4 separate regions of the Homo sapiens genome follow, and regions 1, 2 and 3 are each linked to region 4. Evidence: fine-mapped QTL for protein levels in blood plasma. A gene starts in region 4. Each other region holds a variant in brackets. All regions are shown on one strand. Distances are between the middles of the regions.

Region 1 (5,174 bases), 97 kb after region 4:
GGGTTGTGTTCTGGAATTCCTGTACTCTGGATACACATGAATGAGTTCCAGGGGGATTCTATGAATAGTGTGGACAATTCGCGTGTCCATTTTGATTGACTGACAGTTGGAAATAACTATTGCTGCGTGTGAAGAGAGCGCACAGATTTTCTTGTGAAAGTGATCAAATAGGCACCAAGCAACCTCTACTGATGGAAGAATAGGTTAGTTTTCCAAAAAACATGCTCTGGATGATTGCAAGGGAAGGGAAATTGTGGGTGGATTAAGAACATCTTATGTTTCCTGGGCTAGAGAACACTAAATGTGAGTCTCTTTACTGCACCATTCTTTCCTATTTCTCATGGATAGCATCTGACCTGTTTCTCACTTTAATCGGAGAAAAGTGAAAATTCAAACGTACAGATGAAGGCATCACTATTAATACATGTTAGTGAAGTGTGAGAATTAAACATTCAGTTTCTCAGTCAAGCTAAGATGAAGATATAGAACATTTCCGTTGTAGAAAATTCGAGTGATGGTGCTGCTGCTCTGAGGGTGAGCTGGTTAGGGCCTGCACTGCTCACTGTTCTGAAATGACCTCTGTCGTGACTGGAATGTCACAAGAAAAAAATTACTCCTCGCCAAACAGTACATGTTACTCAAGACGAGAGAACACAAGTTTATAAAGGCATTTAGTTTATTTTTCAAAAAAATACTTTGCTAGAAGGGTTGAGTACTGTAATTTTACATGATCATAATCTCTAAATAAATTCTTTTTCTGACCAACAGGTACCAGTTAAGTGAACAGCTCGTCTAGGTCTGCTTTTGTAACACCCAAATACAATTAGCACTTCTCTGCTGGTATTCCCTGGGCCGTCTTAATTATCTAGAGGCCAGGAGGCAAAGCCTAGCACGTAACAAAGTATGTGCTTTGTAACTGCTGATTAATTCAGTTTCTTAACTAGGCAGAGCAGGTCATCAGTGTATCTAATTCACACTATTAATACACTGTCTTGCTGAAGAGTCTGACCTGCCCAGAACCCCGTTATGGCTAGCCCAGGGAAGCAGTAAACTGCAAAGCAGAGAAAAGGGGCAGCTAAGATGAGGCTAGTGCTGGCTGAGTCCCAGTTAGGTCTGTTACTGTTCTGTTCCAACTATAAATCCAGGATGACTGTTACTCAGATTCAGTGCTATGTAGAAAATAGAATGCACAGCCAAAAACATAATTTGGGGATGACTGGCAGCACCTTTTTTTCCCTTTCTTAAGAGGCTAACTGAAAGTTGATTAGGATTCTTGAGAGAACGTAACTAAAAGTTGAATCAAATCTATATTCACTGCTATAGATTTAATAAAAGGAAAGACCACTGTAAAGATGCAACTACAACCTGATGCGTCTGCTGAGGAGAGGACTGGGCAGCTTGTTGAAGGCTCGTCAAAAGTAGCGCTTAGTTATCACAAGGCCTGCACTCAACCTCAAAAGCGTAAGGTTTAGGCCAGGCACGGTAGCTCATGCCTGTAATCCCAGCACTTTGTGAGGCAGAGGCGGGTGGATCACCTGAGGTCAGGAGTTCCGAGACCAGCCTGACCAACATGGCAAAACCCTGTCTCTACTAAAAATACAAAAATTAGCTGGGAGTGGTGGCGCACACCTGTAGTCCCAGCTATTGGGGAAGCTGAGGCAGGAGAATCACTTGAACCTGGGAGGCAGGGGTTGCAGTGAGCCGAGATCACATCACTGCACTCCAGCCTGGGCAACAGAGCAAGACTCCGTCTCAAAAAAAAAAAGCATAAGGTCTGCCTACCTCATGGGCACCCAAACAGTTCAGTGCCAAACTAGTACCAGTAAAGCCATGCCTGCCTCTTTCACCAACAGTCCAGAGTATATTTCAAAAATATCTTTATTAACCAAGGAAGCAATTACTGCAAACATCAGGACAAAGGACATTCTAATCTAGGACTTGAGTTAAATAGAGGTTTACACCTAATCACAAGAAGAGAGGGAAAGCAATTACGTGTGCTGAAACCAAGTTTCATCAATGACAAATATTTTAAAATGACTTTTAAAATACTTAACATTGGCCAGGCACGGTGGCTCCCGCCTGTAATCCCAGCACTTTGGGAGGCCCAGGCGGGCAGATCACTTGAGGTCAGGAGTTCAAGACCAGCCTGGCCAACATGGTGAAATCCTGTCTCTACTAAAAGTACAAAAATCGGTGGGGCGTGGTGGCACACACCTGTAATCCCAGCTACTTGGGAGGCTGAGGCAGGAGAATCGCTTGAACCTGGGAGGTGGAGGTTGCAGTGAGGCAAGATTGCGCCATTGCACTCCAGCCTGAGGGACAGTGAGACTCTGACTCAAAAAAAAAAAAAAACAAAAAACCCAAACTCAACATTTAGTCTAAGCCACACTGGGCAGCACACCTCAAGGTGCCCTATGAAGCATGAGACTGGAAGTGGAAGAGTCACTGGATTTGGGCAGCTCTCTCTCGGCGTTGATTTTCTTACAGGAACAATTCTGTCTCTTCTGCATGCCAGGTTCTGTCACTGAGGAACTGAAACACTTCCTCACTCTGAAGTACAAGACATTTTGAACTGACAGCCCAGTGACTGGCTACTTTGGTATACCACACCCCCACAAAAAAAAAAAAAAA[AAAAAAAAAAAAAT/T]CAGAGGCAAATTTCTGGCATGTTTTGAAAAATCTCATGTTTGCATAATTATGTTTGAAAAACTCATTATGAGATCTTCCTTACCCTAAACTGTCATTTTTTCCTAACGCTGACAGAACCCCACCTATAGCAGCATAAAGTGCCTCTACTCTCAGTCTTTTTAACGACTTGAAACACAGTAAGAAACACTGACCTGGTTTGACATTAAGGATTTTGGGTCTGGAGGACTCAGGAGAGGAAAGTGCTGGGGCTGCTTCCCAGTGTCACCACTGGTGTTGGGAACCCTGCATGTAAACATGGTCGGACTCAATCCTCAACTGCTGGCAGTCAGCCTTCTCAACCATACCTCAGGGCCAAGTGAAACTAAACATTTTAGCTTTTTCAACACTCCAAACCTACGCGGGCATAAACTCGAGAATCTTCTGCCATTTACTTTGTTTTTCTATTCAGACTTCTGAGTTTCTCATACATACATTGGTTGGTTTTCCTCCCAATTCAGAAAGGGTAACTGGGTAGGTTTCACATGTATCTTTCCAACATGTCACGAAAGGCTGGATTAAAGATGTGAGACGCGTGATATTCATCCTAATGCAGCTAAGTGTATGGACAAGGGCCACTTGGCCTTTCTTCAGAAGATGAGGTTCAACAGAAGGAGAAGAACAGCTGTGCTAGTGTCAGCACTGGCCATGCAGAAGCCAGACGTACCCTGCATGTTACTGAGGTCACTAATGGGACAGGAGAAAGAACCTGACACGGTTGCTGCGCTCCCATGGGACTAAGTTGTCTCTATTACCTTCCCTCTTCTCTCCAGCCACCTGCAAAACATCTCAAGTCAGTCAGCCTTCAGTTTTGAATGTTTACGTTTCAGATACCCTTGAAATAGAAATGCATTTGGTAAACCTTAACTTCTTCCAATTGGGAGGCAACACAGGGAAATGACAACTTAAAAATTACTCTGAGAACAGCTGCATTCTCATTTGTTTGACCACTAGTTTGATGGATGTTAAGATTTTTTTAACAGGTCGAAAACAGAAAAATTCAGGGAATTCAATATCCCAGCAAAAGCCTTTATGAGATGTATGCCACGTATTATAATTCCTAAAACCACGATTGAAATCTGTCATTGTTACTGGCCTCCAAGGTTGCTTTTTCTCACACCTTACTCCTCCCAAAGCAGCCACTGTGCTTACAAGTGTGCCTCCAGAAACAGAAGACACCAGTCAGTTTACGACCACTTCCATCTCACCCTTCAAAAGGAATGGACTGCACTCTCTAAGACTCACTTGGAGAGGGAAGTTGGTGAAAGTTGCCGCTGGTAAAGTAAAACAGGACTGGATTTGTCAAAACCACCCCCAGCTACCCTTAATGCCCCAGGGAACACTTACTATTCTCAGAGTTATGTTGTATCAAAAACATCTTGCATTTTTAGGTTCTGGGAGTAAATTTGAAACCTGTATTCAGTTCACGTCTAACTAAGTTTCAAAAGCTGCACCAAATCTACTAAGCTTTTTTTTTTAATACTCTTCACTGCATGCTCTGTCTATATGCATGCGTTTGAATAATAAATATTAAATATGGGGGACGCACAGAACCATAAAATTAAAAATGAAACCAAACTGAACATTAAACAATAGTACATGGTAGCTGGAGAAATGAATAAGGGCAAAAAATAAATTTGAGGTAACAATAGTGGCCCAACACCACTGATCTGAAATATCTGTAAAAATTCAACTAAGTGTTTGGAGATTCAAGTAACAAACCATCTGCTCCAACTTGGTCAGACTTCCCAGAGTCCCTGCTGAGTTTCAGTCCATGAGCCGGCACTCACATAGCTCCTTGTAAATCCTCTTCCGCACTCGGGGCATGTCTTCTTGTGAAAACTGGAAAGGCTGCTCTAAGGCGAGGCACTTGCAGTACTGCAAAAAAAAAGGTCCCAGAAACACTTCAGTGGCACTTGGAGTTGTGGACCAGCCCATTCTGTTTTACTAAATGCAGACCTAATAGTGTCTAAGGCAGAAGACCCCAACCTTTTTGGCACCAGGGACTGGTTACGTGTAAGGCAATTTTTCCACAGACTTGGGGGAGAGGGGGTTGGTTTCAGGATGAATTATCAGGCATTAGTTAGATTCTCATAAGGGGTGAGCAACCTAGATCCCTCGCATCTGCAGTTCACAACAGGGTTCACACTCCTAAGAGAACCTAATGTGGACAGTATCTGTCCGTGGCCCAGGGGTTTGGGACCCCGATCTAAGGCAGCATTTTCATGTCTGTTTAAACTACTGTAAAAATACACTGTTTTAAGCATTTACCCAAATTATAGGTGACTGACCAAGCTAGTGCATGGCTTGGGATCTCCTCTCCCTCCTGACCCAATACTGTGAAAAGCAGCAACTGATGAAAAGGCCTCAATTCCTCCCAAAGTGCAACCTGCTGGAGTGCAGCTAGACCCATCATGGCCCTTAATGGGAACTTGAATTTGTTTATAAAACCCCAAACATGCATGAGGTATACAAACGAACCGGTCTTCCAA
Region 2 (5,193 bases), 14 kb after region 4:
GCATCTTGGTGCACACCTGTAATCTGAGCTACTCGGGAGGCTGAGGCAGAAGAATAACTTGAACCTGGGAGGCGGAGGTTGCAGTGAGCCAAGATCATGCCACTGCACTCCAGCCTGAGCGACAGAGTAAGACTCCATCTCAAAAAGAGAAAAAAGGCCAGGTGTGGAGGCTCACGCCTGTAATCCCAGCACTTTGGGAGGCCGAGGTGGGTGGATCACGAGGTCAGGAGATCAAGACCATCCTGGCTAACACAGTAAAACCCCATCTCTAATAAAAAAAAATACAAAAAATTAGCCGGGCGTGGTGGCGGGCACCTGTGGTCCCAGCTACTCGGGAGGCTGAGGCAGGAGAATGGCGTGAACCCGGAAGGTGGAGGTTGCAGTGAGCCGAGATCGTGCCACTGCACTCCAGCCTGGGCGAAAGGGCCAGACTCCGTCTCAAAAAGAAAAAGGGGGGGTGAGGTCAAAAGACAGGAAATAAAATAGAAAAAAGGACTTGAAAGAAATCCATCGCAATATGAATAGTTGGAGTTATGGGAGATCCCCCGTCCTCTCTAGTCCTGGGGTGGGTAGATTCCTTCGGGGTTTGTTTCCACCGTGGCCCCTGCTCCGGGAGCCCTGCCCCCTGCCCCCTGCTCAGAGCCAAACGCAGTGCCTCATGGCAGCCGCAAGCTCATCCTAGACTCTTGGTACATTCATCTGTCTCACCCAAAGCCTTTCTTTTTTTTTGAGACAGAGTTTCGCTCTGTCGCCCAGGCTGGAGTGCAGTGGCGTGATCTCGGCTCACTGCAAGCTCCGCCTCCCAGGTTCACACCATTCTCCTGCCTCAGCCTCCCCAGTAGCTGGGATTACAGGCGCCCGCCACCACGCCCAGCTAATTTTTTGTATTTTTAGTAGAGATGGGGTTTCACCGTGTTAGCCAGGATGGTCTTGATCTCCTGACCTCGTGATCCGCCCACCTCGGCCTCCCAAAGTGCTGGGATTACAGGCGTGAGCCACCACGCCCGGCCAGCCTTTCTTATTTTCTTACTTTTTTTATCTTGAATAGTTATTTATAAGTATTGTATTACTGTCAGATACCTCCAATTCACTTTAGCAATAGAAATTGGTGAGAGCTAGAAAATGAGAGTAACGAGATAGAGTCTGTGTAGGTACCTGGAGTTGGGTGCGGCCACCAAGCTCTGCCACCTTCTGAATGCTGGGTTCTCATGTCCATGACACCCAGCCACCCCTCAGATTCCCTCTCCTGGGCCTTCCCCGCCACCCGCCCCAACCCCTTTCGGAGCTGGCTCAGCCCAGGCTTCCTGCTTCCCAGGGAAGACGCTTCCCTCCTGGGGCCAGGCCCTGCTGTCACAGGACTTCGAGCTGCTGTGCCGGGATGGTAGCCGGGCCGATGTCACCGAGTGGAGGCAGTGCCATCTGGCCCGGGTGCCTGCTCACGCCGTGGTGGTCCGGGCCGACACAGATGGGGGCCTCATCTTCCGGCTGCTCAACGAAGGCCAGGTGGGCTCAGGGTCCCCCAACCACCTGCACAGCTTCCTAGATGGTGCCGGGCCTTGTGGTCGCTCAGCAGGGTGGGACCAGGAGGGGCAGGACCCAGAGACTGTCCTTGGGACGGACCCCAGCATCGGGCCAGGTCAGAGTGAGGAACCGACTATGCTGGCTGGCCAGAAGGAGGGCTGGCCAGGAGAGGGGGGCCCAGAGGAGGGGGACCCAGGGATTCAGGCACCCTCAGAAGAAGCTCCTGAGACTTGTGTCTCTGAGAGCTAAAACCAAAACATATGAGCAAATAAACCAAGTAACAAAACCAGCGCCTTTCAAAGCACACCATTAATTACATGTGGCGAATAAGGTTTGGCTAAAACCGCCGCTTGTGACAGCAATAGACTTCTGACTGCTGGTGCCCCAGGCTCAGTTAGTTTTGCCCTATCCAGGCTGCTACCACCAGCCCCACGGCGTGTCCTCAGGACCGTCCCATGCCTGGCCACAGCCATGTGTCCAAACAGCTGAGTGTGAGGAGGCCAAATGAACTCAGAGTAGACCCAGAACTGACAGGGCCCAGGGGAAGGAGGCCGCAGATCAGGGGAGGCGCCGCAGAAGAGGGAGGCCTCACCTGGCCCTCAGGGTGGGTGCCTGGTCTGAGGTCGGGGAAGAAGGAGGTAGGGGCCAAAGTGGGAGGGAAGGATATGGCCTGTCAGCACCCTCACCACCCTGTACCACACCCCTTGACACACAGCGTCTGTTCAGCCACGAGGGCAGCAGCTTCCAGATGTTCAGCTCTGAGGCCTATGGCCAGAAGGATCTACTCTTCAAAGACTCTACCTCGGAGCTTGTGCCCATCGCCACACAGACCTATGAGGCGTGG[C/GC]TGGGCCATGAGTACCTGCACGCCATGAAGGGTCTGCTCTGTGACCCCAACCGTAAGTCCACCTGTCCCCACTGCTGCCAGCTCCAGCCCAGCTCAACCTCGGGCATGGCGAGGCTCTCTGGGAAAGTGGCCGGGGGAAGACGCTCACCAGGGAGGCCTCTGCGGGAACCTGTCATTTCCATTCCTCTGCCCCTGGGGCTTTGGGGAGGAGGCATCTCTTCCACTGTATGGCCTGTTGTACCTCGGAAGCCCCACCTGGCCGCAGCGGGGGAGGATGCAGACCATCAGAATCTGTCTTGGGAAGGGTCTCCTCGCCCCCCCATCCACGGCCATGGCATCCTGTCAGCTCTTCTACAGCCTCTCGCTCCTACTCCCCGCCTCTACCCCATGGCTACAGCCCTGGCGCAGGTGCCATCTTTCGCCTGGACTATTGCAGTAGTCTACAAGTGAGCTTCTTGCCTTTAGCCCCCTGGCCCCATGTATCTTCCACCTCCAGCCAGGGAAGTGGGTACCACACACTGAGTTACATGCACGCCAGCCATGGTCTTCCTCAGGCCTCACAGTTGCCCCTTTTCTGTGTGAGGAAGTGGGATCCGATGGTTAAATAACTTATCCCAGCCACACACCTGACAGGAGAAAGGCCCAGAATTTCCCTTGGGTCCGACTCCATGCTCTTCCATGGCAGTACTGGCCTGGCAGTGACCGCTTGCTTGCCCCACCCCAGGGCTGCCCCCCTACCTGCGCTGGTGTGTGCTCTCCACTCCCGAGATCCAGAAGTGTGGAGACATGGCCGTGGCCTTCCGCCGGCAGCGGCTCAAGCCAGAGATCCAGTGCGTGTCAGCCAAGTCCCCCCAACACTGCATGGAGCGGATCCAGGTGGGAGTCACGCAGGTGCAGCGTGGGCCAGGTGGGCGGGTGGTGGCAGTGCCTGGGCAGTTCTTACTACCCACACCCCCTGCTGCCTGGGGAAGAGGAGAGTGTCTACTGCAACAAGCCCACAGAGACGGGTGGGGAGGAGCGACCGCAGGGGCCAGCACCCACCCCAGGGGACAGAGACAGGCGGGGAGGAGCGACCGCAGGGGCCAGCACCCACCCCAGGGGACAGGCAGATAGGGGTGAGTCCCCTGGAGAGCCTGGGAGCTCCTCACTAAGTGGGGGTGCCAGGAGCAGAAGAAGCGCTGGCCCAGCTGGGCACTGACGCCCTGTAGCCTGGGGCAAGCCCCTTCCCCTTTCTGAATCTCAGCCTTCCCTTGTGCAATAGAGAGTGGGCGTGGATCATTGTTCGACTTTTTTTTTCTTTTTTCCTGATTTTTCTAAATAGACAAATAATAATTGTGCATATTCATGAGATACATACTGATGTTTTGATACATAGAATACATGGTGATCAGAGCAGGATAATAATTAACATACCATCATCTCAAACATTGCTCATTTCTCCGTGTGGAGAACATGCAATATCGTCCTACCTGTTTGAAACTATGTATTATTGTTAACTCTAGTCATCCTACAGTCTATAGAACACTGGAGCTTATTCCTCCTATCTCTCCTGGCTGGGTGCATTGGCTCACACCTATAATCCCAGCACTTTGGGAGGCCAAGGTGGGTGGATCACTTGAGGTTAGGAGTTCAAGACCAGCCTGGCCAACATGGTGAAACTCTGTTTCTACTAAAAGTACAAAAAAATTAGCCGAGCATGGTGGCACACAGTTGTAATCCCAACTACTTGGGAGGCTGAGGCAGGAGAATCGCTTGGACCCGGGAGGTGGAGGTTGCAGGGAGCCGAGATCACACCATTGCACTCCAGCCTGGGCGACAAGAGAGAGACTGTCTCAAAAAAAAAAAAAAAAAAAAAAACTCTCCCTATTCCTCCCTTCCCCTACCCTTCCCAGTCTGCAGCATCCTCTGTTCTACTTTTTACTTCTGTGAGATCAACTTTTTTTAGCTTCCACATATGAGTGGAACATATGGTGTTTAACTTGCTGTGCCTGGCTTATTTCACATAACACGGTGTCCCCCAGTTCCGTCCGTGTTGCTGCCAGTGACAGGATTTCATTCTTTTTTATGGCTAAATAGTATTCCACGGTGCATGCCAATGACATTTTCTCTATCCATCCTCTGTTGTTGGACACCTGGGTTGATTCCACATCCTGGCTATTGTGGCCAGTGCTGCGATAAACATGGGGTGCGGGCATCCCTTCCACAGGCTGATTGCCTTTCCTTTGGACAGATTCCCAGTGGTGGGATTACTGGACCATATGGTATTCAATAGTTCGATTTGTAGTTTGTGGAGGGACTTCCGTACTGTTTTCCATAGCGGCTGTCCGGGTTTACATCCCCAGCAACGGTGTGTAAGAGTTTCCTTTATTCTGCATCCTCACTAGCATTTGTTATTTTTTATCTTTTTGATAACAGCCACCCTAACTGGGGTGAGCTGATACCTCACTGTGGCTTTGATTTGCATTTCCCTGATGATCAGTGATGGCTGCTGGCATTTTGTATGTCTTCTTTTGAGAAACGTCTGTTCTGATCATTTGCCCGTTTTTAAGTTGGATGGTTTTCTGCTGTTGAGATGTTTCCGTTGCATGTGTATTCTGGATATTAATCCCCTGTTGGATGAGTAGTTTGCAAATATTTTCTCTCATTCCATAGGCTGTCTTCATTTCACTCTGTTCGTTGTTTTCTCTGCTGTGCAGAAACTTGTTTGTTTGATACAATTCCCTTTGCTTATTATTGCTTTTGTTGCCTATGCTTTCGAGGTCTTTTCATAAAATCTTTTCTCAGACCAATGTCCTGAAGCGTTTTGCCTATATTCTCTTCAGCAATTT
Region 3 (5,193 bases), 66 kb after region 4:
CTCCATGCCTGGGAGACCTCAGCCAAGCAGGGCAGAGAAATAATCAGACAACAGTCAGCGCATGGCGCCTGCAGAGTTTTGCACAGGGTCCTTCAGAAGGAGGGTTAGGGAAGACTTCTTGGGGGTTAGGGCAGTTAAGCAAGATGGATAAAGAAAGCAACCACTTATGTCTGCATATTTTCTTCATTTCATCTTCACAACAGCCCTGAGATAGGTACTTGTTTTAAAGCTGAGGTATAAATTGGGGTTCAGAGAGATTGAGTGCTTTCACCATGAACAAGTGACAGAGAGCAACGACTTGAACCGGGTTACCTGATGCCACCGCTGGTCTTAACCTCCATGTTATTAGCGTATTGGGTAAGTGAAACCGTGTGAGCCAAGAAGCTGGGGTGAGAAACAGCACGGAATAGAGGAGAGGGCTGCAGAAAGGCGTGATGTTTCTGGAGCACCGAATTCTACTCACGAACACAGGAGTGGAGGCGGGAAGGGGACACTGGAAGCTATGGAGGGCCTTGTCAGCCACAGTAAGGAATGTGGACCTGGTCCTCAGGGTGGTGAGGGGATGGCCCCCCATCCAGAGGTTTCTCACAGGGGAGTGATTCGGCCTGTCTCTGCCGCAGTCAGAAGGAAGGATGCAGTGAGAGAGGGAAAGTGGAGAGGCGGATGGCGGTGCAGTCTACTCCAGGTCATGCTTCTTACCATCTCCCTCATTATTCATCCACAGAAAATGATTGCTGTTATATGACACACTGGTTAACAAAGGAGGGGGCTGTTTGCAAACAGAAACAACCAACCCAGGGCCTCCAGCCATCCAAAGATTCTGCACAGCCAGCCACCCCTAAGGCTAAGAAATCCCAGGTACATGCACACCAGTCACAGCATACCTGGACTCAGACAATGACAGTGGAGAATGAGGAACAAGAGCTGGGTTCAAGGAATAATTAGCAAGCAACGTTGGCATTACGTAGTGCAGGGACAAAGGAGGAGGGAGATAGCCCGTGGGATTCTGGACTAAATTGGGCAAATGGTATGACATGGTTAGGCTTTTGTGTCCCCGCCCCAATCTCATCTTGAATTGTAATCCCCAAGTGTTGAGGGAAAGACCCGGTGGGAGAGGATCGGATCATGGGGTGGTTTCCCCCACGCTGTTCTTCGGATAGTTAGGGAGTTCTCATGAGATCTGATGGTTCCATAAGCGTCCGTCATTTCCTCCACTCACACTCTCTCTTGCCACCTTGTGAAGAGGTGCCTGCTTCCCCTTCCGCTATGACTGTAAGTTTCCTGAAACTTCCCCAGCAATGTAGAACTGTGAGTCAATGAAACCTCTTTTATTTAGAAATTGCCCAGTCTTGGGCAGTTCTTTATAGCAGTGTGAGAATAGATTAACACAGTAAATTGGTACCAGGAGTGTGGGACACTAATACATGGTAGTTTCCTCATTGCTGTAGGGAGCATGGGGACAGGGCTCATTCCAGGGAAGGTGATGAGTTCTTTTGGGCTGCCCTGTGTTTGAAGCAGGTACAGAAGCCTAACGGGCAGTGGAGCAGGGCAGTGGAGTCAAACAGACCGGGTCCATCTTCCAGCTCCACCAACTTAGTAGTTCCGTTACCTTTTGCAAAAAGCCTGTTCATTTGTGTGTAAGACAGGGATAAGAATAGGTTCATAGAGGCTGAGGTGGGAGGATTGCTAGAGCCTGGGAGGCAGAGGTTGCAATGAGCTGAGATCATGCCACTGCGCTCCAGCCTGGGTGACAGAGTGAGACCCTGTCTTAAAAAACAAAAAAAAGGATAGGGTTATAGACTTCCCATAATTAAATAAGATAAGGTACAAAGCCTGGAAGGTAATATGTATCTAATAAATGGCAGTGCTAGACTGGGCACGGTGGCACACGCCTGTAATCCCAGCACTTTGGGAGGCCGAGGCAGGTGGGTCATGAGGTAGGAGTTTGAGACCAGCCTGGCCAAGATGGTGAAACCCCATCTCTACTAAAAATACAAAAATTAGCCAGGCGTGGTGATGCGTGCCTGTAGTCCCAGCTACTTAGGAGGCTGAGGCAGAAGAATCGCTTGAACCTGGGAGACAAAGGTTGCAGTGAGCCAAGATCGTGCCACTG[C/T]ACCTAGCCTAGGCGACAAGCAAGACTCCATCTCAAAAAAATTAAAAAAAAATGGTAGTGCTAGGCCGGGCACGGTGGCTCATGCCTGTAATCCCAGCACTTTGGGAGGCCGAGGTGGGCGGATCACGAGGTCAGGAGATCGAGACCATCCTGGCTAACATGGTGAAACCTCGTCTCTACTAAAAATGCAAAAAATTAGCCGGCCTGGTGGCAGTCGCCTGTAGTCCCAGCTACTTGGGAGGCTGAGGTAGGAGAATGGCGTGAACCCGGGAGGTGGAGCTTGCAGTGAGCTGAGATTGCACCACTGCACTCCAGCCTGGGCGACAGAGTGAGACTCCGTCTCAAAATAAATAAATAAATAAATAAAAATAAAAATAAAAGCAAACAAATAAAAAAAGGTAGTGCTATTATTATTGTTATACTATTCCTTATTATTATCAGTAAATCCGAAGCTCAGAAAAGAAGCAATTTCAGAAGGCATCAAGTAGAAATGGAAACCATGAGAATAAATGAGATGATCCAAAAGAGTGTATATGGAGGACATTGAAGACCAGGAACATTGACATTTAAGGGGTGGACAGAGGAAGAGAAGCCTAAGAACAAATGGCCTGAGGAGGAGGAAAGCTGTGAGAGCCCGTGGAAGCCACGTGTAGCAGCCACACAGCTAGCTGATCCTCTGCCTCCTTCCTCCTTCCTAACAGAACCTGTTGTTAGGGTAAGCTCCCACAGTGCCAGCTCCAACCCAGGAGGTGAGTCTTCATCAGTAATCTCATTTCCCTTGCCAGTGACTGGTTTGGGAAGGTGTATTTGATGCAGTTCTGTTCAACAGCACTTGATAGAAAGTCTGCTGGTGAACTTCTGGAAAAGATTTCCTTGATCTTAAAGAGAAATGCAGGTGCAAATCAAAACCACAATGAGATACCACTTCACACCCACTGAGATGGATGGAACCCAAAAGTCAGATAACAAGTGTTGGTTAGAACCGTCATACATTTCTGGTGGGAATGTAAAATGATACAGCCACTTTGGAAAACAACCTGGAAGTTTCCCCAAATGATTAAACATAAAGTTACCATAGGATGCAGGGACTTTACGTATATACCAAGAGAAATGAAGACATATGTCCACGAATAAACTTGTACACAAAAGTTTATAGTAGCACTGTTTACAATAGCCAAAACATGGAAACAACTCAGAGGTTCATCAATGGATGAATGGGCACACAAAATATGGTATATCCACACAATGGGATATCACTTGGCCATAAAAAGTAAGGACGTAGTGATACCTGCTACAACACGGACGAACCACGAAAACATTCTGCTAAGTGAAAGAAGCCAGCCACAAAGGCCTCCAGAGACTGAAGGGGGCCTGCCCCTCCACACCTGTGGGTATTTCTCGCAAGGTGGAGACGAGAGACTGAGAAAAGAAATAAGACACAGAGGTAAAGCATAGAGGAAGAAAAGTGGGCCCAGGGGACCGGCACTCAGCAAGTGAGGACCTGCACCGGCACTGGTTTCTGAATTCCCTCAGTATTTATTGATCATTATCTCTACTATCTCAGTGAGGGGGATGTGGCAGGACTATAGGGTAATGGTGGAGAGAGGGTCAACAGGAAAACATGTGAACAAAAGACTCTGTGTCATAAATAAGTTTAAGGAAAGGTGCTATGCCTGAATGTGCACGTAGGCTAGATTTATGTTTAACTTTACATAAACATCTCAGTGCAGTAAAGATCAGTATTGCCGTGCAGTAAAGATCAGTATTGCCACCAGCATGTCTCACCTCCAGCCATAGGGCGGTTTTCTCCTATCTCAGTAAATAGAATGTACGATCAGGTTTTACACCAAGACATTCCATTCCCAGGGGATCATGAGACAGATGCTTTCCTCTTAACTGCAAAGAGGCCTTCCTCTTTCAGTAATCCTCCTCAGCACAGACCTTTTATGGGTGTCCGGCTGGGGGACTATAATGTAAGGTCTTTCCCTTCCAACGAGGCCACATCTCAGGCTGTCTCAGTGTGGGGAAGCCTGGACAACACCCAGGCTTTCTTGGGCAGAGGTCCCCATGGCTTTCCACAGTGCATTGTGTCCCTGGGTACTCAAGACTGGAGAATGGCGATGACCTTTACCAAGCATACTGCCTTCAAACACATTGTTAACAAAGCACATCCTGCACAGCCCTAAATCCATTAACCTTGAGTCAATACAGCGCATGTTTCTGTGAGCACAGGGTTGGGGCTAGGGTTACAGATTAATAGCATTTCAAAGCAGAAGAATTTTTCTTAGTACAGATCAAAATGGAGTTTCTTATGTCTTCCTTTTTCTACATAGACACAGTAACAGTCTGATCTCTCTTTCTTTTCCCCATACAGACCTTACGATTTCATTCATATGGAAGTTCAGGATAGGGAATTCTATAGAGACAGAAAGAAGATTAGTGGTTTCCAGAGTCTGGGGTGGTGGACAAGGATGGGAGGTGATAACTAAATGATATGGGGTTCTTCTTGAGTGATGAAAATTTGTAAAACTGACTGTGGTGATGGTTGCACCTGTCTACGAATATACCAAAAACCATTGAATTGTACACTTTAAAATTATACGGTATATTAATTATATTTCAATAAACCTGTTTTAAAAAGAGATAGCCTCAAAAATACAGACACTTCTCAGTTTGTCATGTCTGGACGAGATGGCTGGAACTGAGGATTATGTCCACACAAAGAGAAAGGCAGCATCAAGGCTGACCTGAGAAGCGGCAAGGGACCCTGGCAGTACCAAGTCTGGTTGTTTTTTTATGTGACATGATCAATTGTTTCCTGCTTTTTCTTTTAAGAGATGGGGGTCTCGCTGTGTTGCCAGGCTGACCTTGAACTCCTGGGGTCAAGCAATCCTCCTGCCTCTGCCTCCCAAGGAGCTGGGACTACAGGGGTGCACCACCACACCTGGCAACATGATGAATTGTTGAAGCAGCTTGCATTGTTTTTGCTGTTGTTGTTTGCAAACAACTAAATGTTTTATGCAAAAAGGAGTTAATATAGGGAATTAGCTGCTTACAAAACCTTTGGAAGGGTTGGGTGA
Region 4 (5,193 bases):
TCTGACATCACACTACTTCAGGTGCTCACACCCCAACAAGTCAGCAAGAGGGTAACATCCTCTGACATCACACTACTGCAGGTGCTCACACCACAACCAGTCAGCAAGAGTGTAAAATCTTCTGACATCACACGACTGCAGGTGCTGACACCCCAACCAGTCAGCAAGAGCGTAACATCCTCTGACATCACACTACTGCAGGTGCTCACACCCAAACTTTCTCAGGGCACACCAGCCTTCCAAGGGTTCCCCAGAATAAAAACTATTTGGCTTGTTCTTAAAGACATTGCGGGCCATAGAAATAGACAGACAGAAATTATGATTTGTTGAAAAATATTTTTTCCTAAGTACAATATTTTACTTCGTTTTGGGTAAAGGATTTCACCCTTTGCTGGCTCATTAGCCACTACCTGCTGATGGACCTTCTCAGTCTCCTGTCAAAGGCCCCCACTTTCTGAGGCTGCCTGTAGTGTATTCCCTCCATGGGATGTACTGTTCCTCGATTCCCTGACAAGCAAGCTCAATGCTTCTGGGCACTCTGAATCCTTGGAGAGCCAGAGCTGTGTCTTTGGCAAGAGTGGAGAAGAGCTCTTTTTATTTCATATTATGGGGTAGGGTCAGGGAGACTCAGGCAGAGCTGCTTAGGCCCCAGAATCTGATCGAAGTGTCAGTGAAACCAGTTCCTTTAGTCTGTATGCTCTCCCTCTAATCTCAATATGAGTCTAGAATGGGGACCAAACTAACCTCAGCTTCTGCTCCTCCAGAAGGCTGTTTGTGGGTTAAACTACTGGCTTATTACTCTCTCATTACATCCCACCCATTTCTCTGGCACACCCAAGTATGTCCGGACCCCAGAAATGGCAGAATCCTGGCTCAAGCTGAGGCAGACTTCCCCATTCCACAAAGGTGATGCGCGTTCATGCCAACCCTGGGCCAACGGGCCCGATGTAGAATCCCTGAGAACCCAGAGGCAGCAAGTTCACTGATGAGTCACAGCTGAATGACACCCAAGAGATAAGGGAAGAACTTCATTGTGAAAGAGCCCAGCAAACCTCTTAGGTTATGGTTGTTCTCACTCCCTATCAGCGTCACGTGGAGTTTTGCCAAAGGAAGGACTTAGTCATCAAACAGATCCTGCCAGTCATCTGGTGGCTCCTGGAGTGTGCCAACTGAGCCTTTCTATCCTCGTGGTCAGGAGAACGAGGCTTGTTAAGGACTCTTCTATTTATTCCATCTTCTTAGGACAAGCCATCAGCCCCTCTAGCAAGGCTGCCTGCTAGTCCATTCGGCACCTTTGTGCAAACTAGGAAGAAGGGATCCATCTGGGGGGATGGAGAAACAGCTTCCACAGCACAAGTCCTCCAGAGCAGACAGGAGACGGAAAGTATGGCACGTCACGGCCATCATGACCTACCTTTTACATGTGGGGAACAAGCCCAGAGAGGGCGACGAACTCGCCCAGGGTCTGTAAGTCGCTGGTTTTTAAAAAGTAGAGCTCGAGTCTCCTGAAGCCCAGCCCATGTTCCTTCCCCTGATCCAGTGTGTGATAAGCAGTAGCTTCATGGCCCCATAGGAGGGAGGCCTTCCTTCCCCAGGGCGCAGAGCAAGCTCAAGGACAGACAAACTCAGAGGGATGTCTTCTCTCTCACTGTTGTACTTACCCATGTCAGAGAGAGACATCATTTCTGAGTCTCAGAGGGGCTGATGACATAAAGGTGAGGCCTAAATGGAGGCAGGTGACTAACAATGTCTTCAGTTCATTCCCCGCATCCCCAACCACATGGGGAGTGCCGCTTTTGCCCGCCTGCGACAGTGGTTCTCAACATTTGCTGTGCCCCGAAATAAAAACAGATTGTGGGCCCCGCCCCCAGAGCTGTCGATCCAGTGGGTCGGAGGTGGGGCCTGAGCACTTGCATTTCCAGCAAGTTCCAGGGTGATGCTCACGTTGCTGGCCTAGGGACCACACTGAGAACCACTGTCCTAGAAATACGGTCAACCCACCCTTTCCTCCCTCACCTTCTTCACTCTCTTCCTCCCCTTCTCCGCCTGTTTCTCCTTTTCCGCTTCCTCCAATTCCTCTCTGGTCCTCTTCTCACCTTCCAATCAGCTGGCTCTGCCACTGACTGGATGCCTGACTCGGGCAAGTCACCTCCCGTCTCTAGGCCCGAGGAGAGGCAGTCGGCTAGGCCGAGATGCCCCTGCCCGGCTCCCCCCTCGCCAGGGCGCTCGGCCTGGGCTCCCCCGTATCCCAGATCCTCTGTGCAGCTGTGGCCGAGATGCCCCTGCCCGGCTCCCCCCTCGCCAGGGCGCTCGGCCTGGGCTCCCCCGTATCCCAGATCCTCTGTGCAGCTGTGGCCGAGATGCCCCTGCCCGGCTCCCCCCTCGCCAGGGCGCTCGGCCTGGGCTCCCCCGTATCCCAGATCCTCTGTGCAGCTGTGGCCGAGATGCCCCTGCCCGGCTCCCCCCTCGCCAGGGCGCTCGGCCTGGGCTCCCCCGTATCCCAGATCCTCTGTGCAGCTGTGCTGGGAGGGAGCTGCTGCGTGAATGAGATCATCCTCCAGCTGCCCTCCAGCCCCGACTCTGGGATTCTGACCTCTCCTTCCTTCCACGTCTGAGCTTTTCTCTCTCCAGTTAGACACGGTATCTGGAGTCTTTCTAGGGCGCGAGGAGGGGAGGATACCCTGGAACGCGGGGTAGGAGGCTGAGGCGAGAGCCCCGAGCAGCGGCGCCCGGGCCCGAGCGGGAGGCCTCCAGCAGGGGGCGCGCCGGGGCCGCCCAGGGGCGGGGTCCGGGGTCGGCGGGAGGTGACCTGCGCCCCAGGGGCGTGGATTCCGCCCGGGAACTCGCGGCCGCACTTAAGGAGCTCGGGCCAGCGCGAGGGGGAGCAGGGAGGAAGCCCGGCTGCTGCGGACCTCCTCGGACCCGGACCCAGCCCCAGCCCGGCCCCAGCCAGCCCCGACGGCGCCATGCGGGGTCCGAGCGGGGCTCTGTGGCTGCTCCTGGCTCTGCGCACCGGTGAGGCCCCGCTGTGAGAGCCAAAGGCGGGCGGGGGTCCCGGGGCGCCGCGGCCCGGCTGAGCAGGTCCCGGGGCTGGAAATGTGCCTGAGCCTGCGGCTCCGGGGCAGTGAGACGGGGGAGGCAGGGGCTCGGGGTCGAGTGAGGACGGCGGAGGGAACTAGCACTGAAGCGCAGACGGGGAAGTCTGGAAGGCTTCTTGGAGGAGGCGGCCTCGAACACCCGAGGCTTCCGACGCTCCAAGGAGAAGCGCGGGCTGAGGCGTGGTGGGGAGGCCTCGGGGTGTGGAGAGGAGCTCCCGGAGGGCGGCCCCTCCCGACGGGCGCAGGAACTCAGGAAGACTTTGGGGGCTCGGAGCAGCTCTTTCTCCCGAGCCCCCGCGGGAGAAGATTCAGAGGGACTGACCGGCAGGCGCGGGAGTCCGCCCGGGGGTTTCTGGCACATGCAGGGATGGAGGTGGAGACGGAGGCCGGGTCCCCTCGCGTCGGCGCCCCGGGGAGTCAGGGCCCGGGATGGTGGGACGGGAGGCGGGACCTCGGGGAGCGGCTCGCGGGGATCGCGGGCGGCGACCGCCGAGGGGATGGAGTTCGTGGCACCGCTGTGGCCGCAGGCGACGCACTCATCAATGCAAACGATGAAGCCACCGCCACCCCCGCCCCGTCTGAACTTTGCAGTTTCCCGCCTGGGTGGTGGGGGGCTTGGAGCGCTGCGGAGGGGAGGGCAGTTCGACTTCCCAGGCCTCCGCCAGGAGTGGGGAGGGGAGGGCTGTGGCGGAAGCTTCAGTCTCGGCCCTTGGGCTGGTGGGGCTGCCACGGGAGGGTGACCTGGTTTCGGGCGGAGTCATGCGTTTCCCTCCCTCCTGCACAGGCCTCTGGCAGTGCTGGCTGGGGCAGGGTGAATGGCAGAGGAGCTCAGGCCTGAAAGTCATCGGCCCCAAGGGGCTCCAGCACCCCTTCCTCTGGGCCCCTAGCCTGGGAGCTCTCGGGGACTCTGACCCGGTCAGATCCTGAGGCATAAGCAGAAGTCCACTGAGGATGTGGGTGTCTCAGGCTCTCTACAAGGGGGTTTACTTTCAACACAGAAGGTGGGGTTTTTATCTGCTCTCTCAGAAGATGAAGCAGGCTCAGAGAGGCTTGAACCTACCCTGATGGGTCCTCAGCCTCCCCTCTGTGCCTGCCGTCTTCCCTTGGCAGGGCCTGGCACTGTGCCCACCGAGGGTGGCTTTGCAGCCAGCATCATCGCAGACACTCCCCGAGGGGACAGGGCTCCTGGAGGGCAGCCCACCCACAGCCCCCTCACCTCACTCTCCCGTCCCAGTTCATGAGGAAGGCCCAGGGACACTGCTGGGTGAGGGAACCTACACGAGCACCCTCTTCGGGAGGCCTGGAGAGGGGAAGAAGCTTCCACTTCCAGGGCCTGCCGAGACTCCCTAGCCAGTGCTCCCACCAGGTGGGGGTAGCTGAGAAGCGACCTGTAGACCCTCCCATTCCTCCATAAAGGGCCGGGTTCTGAGCCATTCCATTTGCCAGCAGCCGTGCTCCTGGTCAGAGAGGCCCTGAGCACAGGAATACCAGCCCTTCCCCTGTCTCTGCGCCTAGTGCCTCCCTGTGGGAGGGCAGGGCTGCCCTAGAGGACTGGCTGTCCAGGCGAATGGGCTCACACAGAACTGCTGGAGCCACCCTCCATGGTGGGCCGGGGCTGGGCAGGGCGGGGGAGCCGGGCCTCACGGTCCCCTGCCCGCAGTGCTCGGTGGCATGGAGGTGCGGTGGTGCGCCACCTCGGACCCAGAGCAGCACAAGTGCGGCAACATGAGCGAGGCCTTCCGGGAAGCGGGCATCCAGCCCTCCCTCCTCTGCGTCCGGGGCACCTCCGCCGACCACTGCGTCCAGCTCATCGCGGTGAGTCCTCTCCCTTCCACCCTGCCAGACAAGAGGGCTGTGACTCAGGAGGGAGCACACAACAGCCCCATTCACCAGGAAAGGAGCCGACCTCGCCCTGCCAGGCCCGGCCGATAGGATCTCCCGAGTCTCCCTGGCCACGAGGCCAGCTTGCCTCCCGCCGGGCCCAGGCCAGGAGGTGGGAGCCTCAGGAGGACCCGCTGCTCAGAGGGCGCCAGCAAAGAAAGGCACCTGAGAGGCTTCCCTTCCACAAGGCCCCTGCCAAGGGGGCCCAGATGGT

What was found. PIP is the chance, under the fine-mapping model, that this variant and not a neighbour inherited with it causes the effect. The UK Biobank Pharma Proteomics Project read protein levels with antibody pairs (Olink). The fine-mapping took linkage between variants from a reference panel, not from the people measured, so its PIPs are less certain.
Region 1: its variant is fine-mapped to the plasma level of the MELTF protein (UK Biobank, PIP above 0.99).
Region 2: its variant is fine-mapped to the plasma level of the MELTF protein (UK Biobank, PIP 0.98). The variant lies in the coding sequence of MELTF. If it changes the protein, the assay may bind it differently, which can mimic a change of level.
Region 3: its variant is fine-mapped to the plasma level of the MELTF protein (UK Biobank, PIP above 0.99).

The regions. Positions count from the first base shown.
Region 1 is chr3:196,930,199-196,935,372 of GRCh38, reverse strand. SENP5 (SUMO specific peptidase 5) reads right to left here. Exons shown (of 10, transcript NM_152699.5): 10 at 659-4,560. The coding sequence ends at 4,450. Among named protein-coding and RNA genes, the nearest start is that of NCBP2-AS1, 7.1 kb to the left of the region's middle. The variant AAAAAAAAAAAAAT/T (reference allele first, on the strand shown) is at 2,632.
Region 2 is chr3:197,013,413-197,018,605 of GRCh38, reverse strand. It overlaps MELTF (melanotransferrin), which reads left to right. Exons shown (of 16, transcript NM_005929.6): 7 at 1,316-1,503; 8 at 2,237-2,417; 9 at 3,090-3,241. Among named protein-coding and RNA genes, the nearest start is that of MELTF-AS1, 13 kb to the right of the region's middle. The variant C/GC (reference allele first, on the strand shown) is at 2,366.
Region 3 is chr3:196,961,332-196,966,524 of GRCh38, reverse strand. The region is part of intron 1 of PIGZ (phosphatidylinositol glycan anchor biosynthesis class Z (Gwada blood group)); the gene reads left to right. Among named protein-coding and RNA genes, the nearest start is that of PIGZ, 4.9 kb to the left of the region's middle. The variant C/T (reference allele first, on the strand shown) is at 2,114.
Region 4 is chr3:197,027,476-197,032,668 of GRCh38, reverse strand. It overlaps MELTF (melanotransferrin), which reads left to right and starts at 2,852. Exons shown (of 16, transcript NM_005929.6): 1 at 2,852-3,015; 2 at 4,759-4,913. The coding sequence starts at 2,967. RefSeq lists enhancers at 837-1,131, 236-1,435, 1,823-2,459, 2,460-3,096 and silencers at 2,630-3,119, 3,170-3,219, 3,410-3,589.